Linked DNA regions of Homo sapiens: region 2 is linked to region 1. The links come from fine-mapping of genetic effects on gene expression. A gene starts in region 1. The other region holds a variant in brackets. All regions are shown on one strand. Distances are between the middles of the regions. Region 1 holds the start of MOK (MOK protein kinase). Region 2 overlaps MOK (MOK protein kinase).

Evidence for each region.
Region 2: its variant is fine-mapped to the expression of MOK in testis (GTEx, PIP above 0.99). The same link has a PIP of 0.9 or more in lung.

The regions. Positions count from the first base shown.
Region 1 is chr14:102,303,127-102,307,508 of GRCh38, forward strand. It overlaps MOK (MOK protein kinase), which reads right to left and starts at 2,038. Exons shown (of 12, transcript NM_014226.3): 1 at 1,836-2,038. The coding sequence starts at 1,842. RefSeq lists enhancers at 1,919-2,441, 2,208-2,257.
Region 2 is chr14:102,234,181-102,238,562 of GRCh38, forward strand. All of the region lies in intron 7 of MOK (MOK protein kinase), which reads right to left. Among named protein-coding and RNA genes, the nearest start is that of MOK, 69 kb to the right of the region's middle. The variant A/C (reference allele first, on the strand shown) is at 2,427.

The DNA of each region.
Region 1 (4,382 bases):
CTCCAGCCAGGGTGACACAGAGAGACCCTGTCCAAAAAAAAAAAGAGTCTAAGAGAAAAAGAAGGTAGATAAATAAACCAAATGATCAAATCTAACTTCAGCAAAACTGCAACGAACTGACATCAGGCACTCTGGAAGGGCCACACTGACAGAGACACAACGTTGCCTCTCACATATTCCTGGTAAAAACATTTAAGCTGAAGCTAATCATGAGGCGAAAATCAGACAAATCCAAATTGAGCGATATTCTGCAAAACACTGGGCTGGATTCTTTAAAAATGTCATTTGGCCTACAGAGGACAGCCAAATAAAAATGAAAATATCATTGTCATGAAAGACACAAAAGGCAGGGACACCATATTAAAAGAGACCAAAGAGATATGACAACAGAATACAATTGGTGATTCTTGATTGGATAGAAAAAATATAAACAACTATAACACATGTTATTGGGATAAATGGAAAAACTGAAATATGGACTGTGTATCAGAGTATTGTATCATTGTTAAATTTTCTAAATGTGTTATTTGTACTGTGATGATGTAGGAGAATGTCCTTGTTCTTGGCAGATAACTGCTGAAAGAAGTGGTGAATTATTAGTAGTCTACAACTAACTCTTGAAAGGTCCAGTGAAAATAAATACATAAATGGGAGAGAGAAAACACCAGAGCGAAAGCGAGCACACAAAAATAAGGCAAAATGGTGCAGCTAAGTGAAGGACGGGTTTATAAATATTCAATGTACTGCTCTTGCAACTTTCCTGTACATCTGAAAATTTTCAAAACAAACAGATGGGAAGAAAAAAATGAATATAGTACAAAATATGTGCAGTATCATAGTCTGCACTGTAAGTAAAAGTGTAAAGTCTTTTGTAGACCTTGGATTCTAACTACAGCTTTGTAGTGCATTAATGAAAAAGGTAAACATTAAACAATATCCAACAAAATAAAATAAAAATAAAAATGCCTTGTAAAGGGTGAATGAGATTAATTATTTTAAATGTTATGCAATGTACACCATTGACAATTAGGATACAATGCAAATTTAACATTATAACTACTCCTAACATAATATTTTCACAGCAAAGGTCTGAATTTTTACTGCACCTCTGGTTCACAACCATAAACAATTATATCTGTACAGTAATAATAATTTTAAAAACATCATTCTAGCTGGTTGCACTTGGATTGTCAATAATCCACAAATCCCACTAAAGAAAATTTTTTACCCGTTACATTTTCTAGAATGACTACCTCATTTCCCAACTTTGAAGTAACAGCTTTTAACTAAAAGGTTGCTTCAAAACTACTATTAAAAAGTGGTTCCTATAAAACACTACTGCTTGACCCAAAAAATAAAATAAAGCACACAGCCCAGCTTTCCTCTCAATTGGTCACTAAACCAGTATCATGAAAAGGCAGGGAGCCACGCTGTAAGCGCTCCCCCGTTTTCTGCCGAATGTTCAGGAAAAGAGTGTCAGGTTCAAGCCAGCATTTAAAATAAAATAAAATGAATCACAGTCAACTCCCTAAACTCCAATGTAAGAACCACGCACCTGCACCAAAATATGCCTGAGCGGGAACTCGAGTCGGCTCTCCGAGACCCCAAAGTTCCCAACCTAGCCCCAACCCCTCAAGCTTCCCCCAGGGGCACCGGCTTCTCACAGCCGAGGGGGATTCGGGGCCCACATGCGGAGCCTCCCGGGCCTGTCGAGCCACGGCAGAAGGCGACGACGCCCGGCCCCACAGGCCCCTCAAGCTCCTCAAGCTCCCCCAGTCCCTCCCTCCCCCGCCACTCGCTCTCCAGTCCCTGCCCCTTTCCCCGGCCCCACTCACTCTTCATCTTGGATGCGGAAGCCGGTGACAACCCCTTGCCGACACTGGACGGAAAAGAAAGAAGCAGGAAGGTTGTCCCCCTGCTTTCCACTTCCCTGAGGCGGGGTCCCGCACTAGGATCTCCGTGGTGGTCCCTCGAAGGAGAGCGTTAGAGATCCCGCCGCCATGTTGTGTCCCTGTCACCCTAGCAACCGTCAGGCCCTGAACGCCATGAGCTGTCGCCTGCGCATGCGCAAGATGCCCCGCCCATGTACGCGTGCGCAGTGCAGCCCGTCCCCTCAGCCCGGTTGCTAAGCAGCCTTTCCTCCGCTTCCATGTAAATACTGTGCAAATCCCCGCCTTTGACACAGGCGACCTTCGCTCGGCTCGCTCTCCCTGCTGGCCTGGGAACTTAGCGATTTGGAACCCACTACGTGGACGATAGCCTTGAGCTTTAATTGGGCTTGGGAGCTTCTACAGGAATTTTTTTTTTTTTTTGAGACAGAGTGTCGCTCTGTTACCCAGGTTGGGGTGCAATGGCGTGATCTCGGCTCACTGCAACCTCCGCCTCCCGGCTTCAAGCGATTCTCCTGCCTCAGCCTCCCAAGTAGCTGGGATTACAGGCACCCACCACTACACCCGGCTAATGTTTTTGTATTTTTAGTAGAGACGGGGTTTCACCATGTTAGGCTGGTCTCGAACTCCTGACCTCAGGTGATCCGCCTGCCTCGGCCTCCCGAAGTGCTGGGATTACAGGCGTGAGCCACCACGCCCGGCCCAGTTTTTCTTTTTAATTCAACAAGCATTTGTTTTTGCCCCAGGAACTGTCGCAGGTATTGGGGATTAAAGGACAGTGTAGACGAGGTGACTGAGTTCTTGAAACTAACATTCTAGTGTAAAGATGAATGAATGTACACCGGAATGAACTATGTGCAGACACGGTGCCTAAGCAACACAGTGGCCTAGTTCTCTGGACCCTGACAAAACAATAAAATAACAAGCATACTATGTATGGGTATAGTATTTTATGAAGCTCATTAGATTAGCCTCATAATTATTCCATGAGATCAAAACCCTGTTTTTTCCTCCATTTTTTTTCTTTTACTAAAATACATCGTTTATTTTTAAAACAGATAAGTAGCCTTGCCAAAACGAAGCCTCAGAAAATTGGTTTAAGACTGAATTGGCCAGGTGTGGTGGCTCACACCTGTAATCCCAGCACTTTGGAAGGCCGAGGCAAGAGGATCGCTTGAGGCCAGAAATTCAAGACCAGCCTGGGCAACATAGAGAAACCCCACTTCCCTCTTAAAAAAAAAAAAAAAAAAACTCCGGGCGTGGTGGCTCACGCCTGTAATCCCAGCACTTTGGGAGGCCAAGGCGGGCAGATCACGAGGTCAGGAAATCGAGACCATCCTGGCTAACACGGTGAAACCCCATCTCTACTAAAAATACAAAAAAAATTAGCCGGGCGTAGTGGCGGGCGCTATAGTTCCAGCTACTCCGGGGGCTGAGGCAGGAGAATGGCGTGAACCCTGGAGGCGGAGCTTGCAGTGAGCCGAGATTGCACCACCTGCACTGCAGCCTGGGCGACAGAGCAAGAGACTCAAAAAAAAAAAAAAAAAAAAAAAAAAGCCGGGCACGGTGGCACATGCCTGTAAACCCAGCTATTCAGGAGAATAAGGCGGAGGTATCTTGAGACCAGGAGTTCTAGGCTCAGTGAGCTATGATAGCACCACTGCACTCTAGCCTGGGTGACAAAGCAAGACCTTGTCTCGAAAGAAAGAGAAAGCGGCCGGTCGCGGTGGCTCACACCTGCAATCCCAGCACGTTGGGCGGCCGAGGCAGGCAGATCACTTGAGTCCAGGAGTTCGAGACCAGCCTGGCCAACATGGGGGAAACCCCGTCTCTACTAAAAAAATACAAAACGGCTGGGCACAGTGGCTGATGCCTGTAATCCCAGCACTTTGGGAGGCCAAGGCGGGTGGATCCCCAGGTCAGGAGTTCAAGACTAGCCTGGCCAAGATGGTGAAACCCCATCTCTACTGAAAATAGAAAAATGAGCCGGGTGTGGTGGCAGGCACCTGTAATCCCAGCTACTCGGGAGGCTGAGGCAGAGAATTGCTTGAACCCGGGAGGCGGAGGTTGCAGTGAGCCGAGATTGCGCCACTGCACTCCAGCCTGGGCGACAGAGTGAGACTCCGTCTAAAAAAGCAAATACATAAATAAAATACAAAACAAGCCAGGCGTGGTGGCTCACACCTATAATCCCAGCACTTTGGGAGGCCGAGGAGGATGGACCAACTGAGGTCAGGAATTCGAGACCAGCTGGCCAACCAACATGGTGAAACCCTGTCACTACTAAAAATACAAAAATTAGCCAGGTGTGGTGATGCGCTCCTGTAATCCCAGCTACTCAGGAGGCTGAGGCGGGAGAATCACTTGAACCCAGGAGGTGGAGGCTACAGTGAGTCGAGATCCTGCCACTACACTCCAGTCTGGGCGACAGAGCAAGACTCCATCTCAAAAAATAATAAATAAATAAATGGTTACAATGGTGAATTTTATGTA
Region 2 (4,382 bases), 69 kb before region 1:
AAACCCGGGAAGGGGGATAGACTCTGGCCAGGACTCGCTCACTATCAATCTCTCTCTCTCTCTCTTTTTCTCTCTCTCTCCCTCCCTCCCCTATCACCCCTCTCCTGGCCAATCTCCCCTTCCCCGAACCTGCCAAAGACCCAGACAATCTCCTAGACTCTCCCATTGCTGGTGACTTCATCCACCATCAAAGCCTCCGCCAGGGTGAGTAAAAAGAGACTGTTGCCATTCCCTGAACTCTTGACCGTCCATCTCCCATTTCCGAAAGACCCAGCGCTGGGCCAAGGGCTTCCTCCAGCCTCCAGGCCTCTGGTTCCTCCGTTTCAGGGACGCCTGACACGGTGGTTACCTCCTCTATTCCTGACAAGTTCCGCGGGAAAGGGGACGTCACCGGCAGTCTCTTCTTCCTCTACCCCCCTCCCTTCCATTCACTATGGGAGCCTCTCAGTCTATTCCTCCTAAAACTACCCCCCTTGGGTGCCTCCTACACAATCTGTATACTCTTGGCCTCCGTTCAGAAATCTGCCCTAAAAGGCTTATCTTTTACTGTAACACCACATGGCCTCAATACAAATCAGACCATGGCTCCCAATGGCCTGAAAATGGCACTTTCGATTCCGACATGCTCAGAGACTTAGACAACTTTTGCCACCGCAGTGGGAAGTGGTCTGAGATTCCTCATGTTCAGGCTTTCTTTACTCTCTGTAGTCGTCCCTCCCTCTGCCAGTCCTGCTGTACTTTTCAAATTCTCCTCGCCTGCTCCAAACCCGACTCACCTCCTGCTCCCCTCATCCCAATAGCCCCAGCGGACGACTTCTCCTTCTTTGATCCCACCGATTTCTCCCCTCCTCGACAACATCCTAATCCTCCACCGGAACAGCATGACCCCCCACCGTATGCCTCCGCTCCGGCTCTACCTCTCTCTCCCCTTCTCTCCAACCACCCCACCTCCGACTCTGAGTCCTCCCCATCTCCACCCCTTACTCGTTCTCGAGCCCAACACGCCCAGCAGCCTGCTCCCTTGCTTCTTCTCCGGGAAGTGGCATGGGCCGAAGGGATGGTCCGTGTCCACGTCCCATTTTCCCTCTCTAATGTTTCCCAAATTGAGAAACGTCCAGGTTCTTCTCCGATCCCGACACTTACATCAAATAATTTAAATATCTCACCCAGTCTTATGAACTTACTTGGCATGATCTCTATATTATTTTGTCTTCTACCCTCCTTCCGGAAGAAAAGGAAAGAGTGTGGCTTGCAGCCCAGGCCCATGCCGATGACCTCCATCGGCAAGATCCTACTAGGCCAGTAGGGGCCGCTGCAGTTCCCTGAGAAGAGCGTACCTGGGCGTATCAACCCACAGGCCCCTGCCAGACCTCCTGTAATCATATGATTACTTGCCTCACTGCAGGCCTTAACAAAACTGCCCATAAGGCTGTAAATTTCGAAAAACTCAAAGGAATCTCCCAAAAGGCCAATGAAAACCCTGCCCAATTCCTTTCTCGCCTTACAGAGACTCTCCAAAAATACACGCGTGTCGATCCCGCCTCCCGGGAAGGAACTATTGTTCTTTACATCCATTTTATTTCCCAATCTGCCCCCGACATCTGGCGCAAACTTAAAAAGGCTGAAGATGCCCCTCAGACCCCACAACGAGACCTCCTTAACTTGGCTTTCAAAGTCTTTAATAACAGGGATGAGCAAAATAAATTAGATAAAGCCCAAAGAGATCGTGCTAAATACCAGCTTCTAGCAGCGGCTGTCCATCAACCCAGCCGTATCACCCAAGGGCACAAAAGACCCGATAGCAGCAACCCTCCGGGCCTTGTTTTAAGTGTGGCAAAGAAGGCCACTGGGCATGGGTGTATCCTAACCCTTGAGTGCCAAAGAGTCCTTGTCCAGTGTGCCAGCAGACAGGCCACTGGAAGTCCGACTGTCCTCTCAACAGACAGACAAGCCTGCTCCTCAGAGCCACCACCCCTTTAACAAGACAAAAAGTGAAGAACCGCTTGCATTCCCGCAGCTCCTCAGCCTAGCCGCTGAGGACTGACCGGGCCCAGGGCCCCCGGCCCCATCTGCCATCACTGCATTGGAGCCCAGGGTAACTCTGCGAGTAGCAGGTAAGCCGATCTCTTTTTAAATTGATAGCGGGGCCACCTACTCAGCTTTGCCTGAATTTTCAGGACCCACTCATCCCTCTCAGGTCTCAGTTGTGGGGGCTGATGGACTCATCTTGCGTCCACGCGCCACCAGACCCCTTACTTGCTCTCTGTTTGATACTGTTTTCCCACACTCTTTCCTTATCATGCCTCGTTGCCCTACCCCCATCCTAGGCCAAATTCAAAGCCAAATTCAAATTCAAATTTTGGCCAAATTCAAAGCTTCTATCACCTTTTTCTCCCTCCCTCAACCGGAGTCCCTCCTACTCCTCT[A/C]TGCGAGTCCAGCCCCTGACCCCTCTCCCCAGTACCCACTTCCCACCTCTTTTGTAAACCCAACAGGGTGGGACACCACCACCCCTTCCCTAGCTACTCACCACGACCCCATCAAAATCCAGTTAAAAGACCTCTCTAAATTTCCCAGCATCCCCAAAAACCCTATCTCCCTAACCCACCAAAAAGGCTTACAGCCCATCACAAACAAGCTCTGTTCACGCCGTCTTCTTAGGCCAACACGTTCTTCATATAACACCACCATCCTCCTGGTTAAAAAATCAGACGGCTCATACCGACTCCTGCAAGACCTCCGAGCCATCAGTCAGGCTGTCTTTCCTATTCATCCCATAGTCCCTAACCCCTCTACACTTCTCTGTCTCATTCCCTCCAACACCACCTGCTACACTGCTATTGACCTAAAAGATGACTTTTTTTACTATTCCCCTGCACCCTGATTCCCAAAACCTCTTTGCTTTCACCTGGACCGACCTTGACACCCTCCAGTCACAACAACTAACCTGGACTGTCCTCCCTCAAGGCTTCAGAGATAACCCTCACTTCTTTGGACAAGCTTTAGCTCAAGATCTCACTTCCTTAAACCTTTTCCCTAGCCGTCTCCTTCAATACGTGGACAATCTTCTCCTTTGCAGCCCCTCTCTAGAAGACTCTCAAACTCACACAGTTACTCTCTTAAAACTTTCTCTCCATCAAAGGGTATAGAGTCTCCCCCTCCGAAGCTCAACTTTCCACCTCCATAGTAACTTACCTAGGAGTTCAACTTTCCCCTGGGACCCGGGCTATGACCCCTGCCCTAGCAGCACTAATAGATAATCTGCCCTCGCCCTCCTCCAAAAGCGAAGTTCTTTCCTTCCTAGAACTAGCAGGCTTTTTTAGAATATGGATTCCCAACTTTGCCCTCCTAGCTCACCCACTCTATGAAGCAGCCAAAGGCCCTCTCAGTGAGCCTCTAAATCCCTCACGTAACATACTCCCCAACTTCTGCAAACTTCAAACCGCTCTTGTCACTGCACCAGCTCTGTCCTTACCTGGTATCTCCCAACCTCTCACACTCTATACTGCCAAAAGATGAGGAATAGCCCTCGGTGTCTTAGGGCAACAGAAAGGAGACCCTCCTTCCTTTGCCCCTGTAGCCTACCTCTCTAAACAGTTAGACAACACAGTCAGAGGATGGCCAACCTGTCTTAGAATGCTAGCAGCAGCGGCCACTTTAGCTGTAAGCAGGAAACTAACATTGAGTCAAAATACCACCACCTACAGTCCTCATAATCTACAGGATCTCCTCTCCTCCCGAGCATGAGGCTCCCTCCTTTCCGGATTCAATTACTCCATGCCCTCTATCAAAAATCCTGAATTCGGTCTTGCCAAAAGTGCTCCCTTCAACCCAGCATCCTTACTCCCTGTATCTTCTTCCCTTCCTACTCATTCTTGCACTGACGTCCTAGATCACCTGCAGCCACACTTTCCTAACATTTCCTCCGAGCCTCTCACCAACCCCGATGACCAGCTATTTATAGATGGCCCCCCTTCTGGGCCCACTGGCTCCCCCAAAATTGCTGGGTATGCAGTTGTTTCCCTTGACCGAGTAATTGAAGCTAAGCCCCTACCTCCAGGAACCTCCTCTCAAAAAGCAGAATTCATAGCTCTCACCAGAGCCCTAACCCTTTCCAAAGGCAAACGAGTCAACACTTACACAGACTCCAAAGATGTATATCACATTCTTCATTCCCACGCCACCATCTGGCAAGAGAGGAGATTCCTTACTGCCAAAGTGACCCTATCACTAACCACCCCCTTATTTACCAACTCCTTCAAGCCGCACATCTCCCAACTGAGGCAGGAGTTATACACTGTTGGGGACATCACACAGGAACAGATAAAATCTCAAGAGGCAACAGAAAGACCAATGGGGCAGCAAAAGAAGCCTCCCTTTCTTCC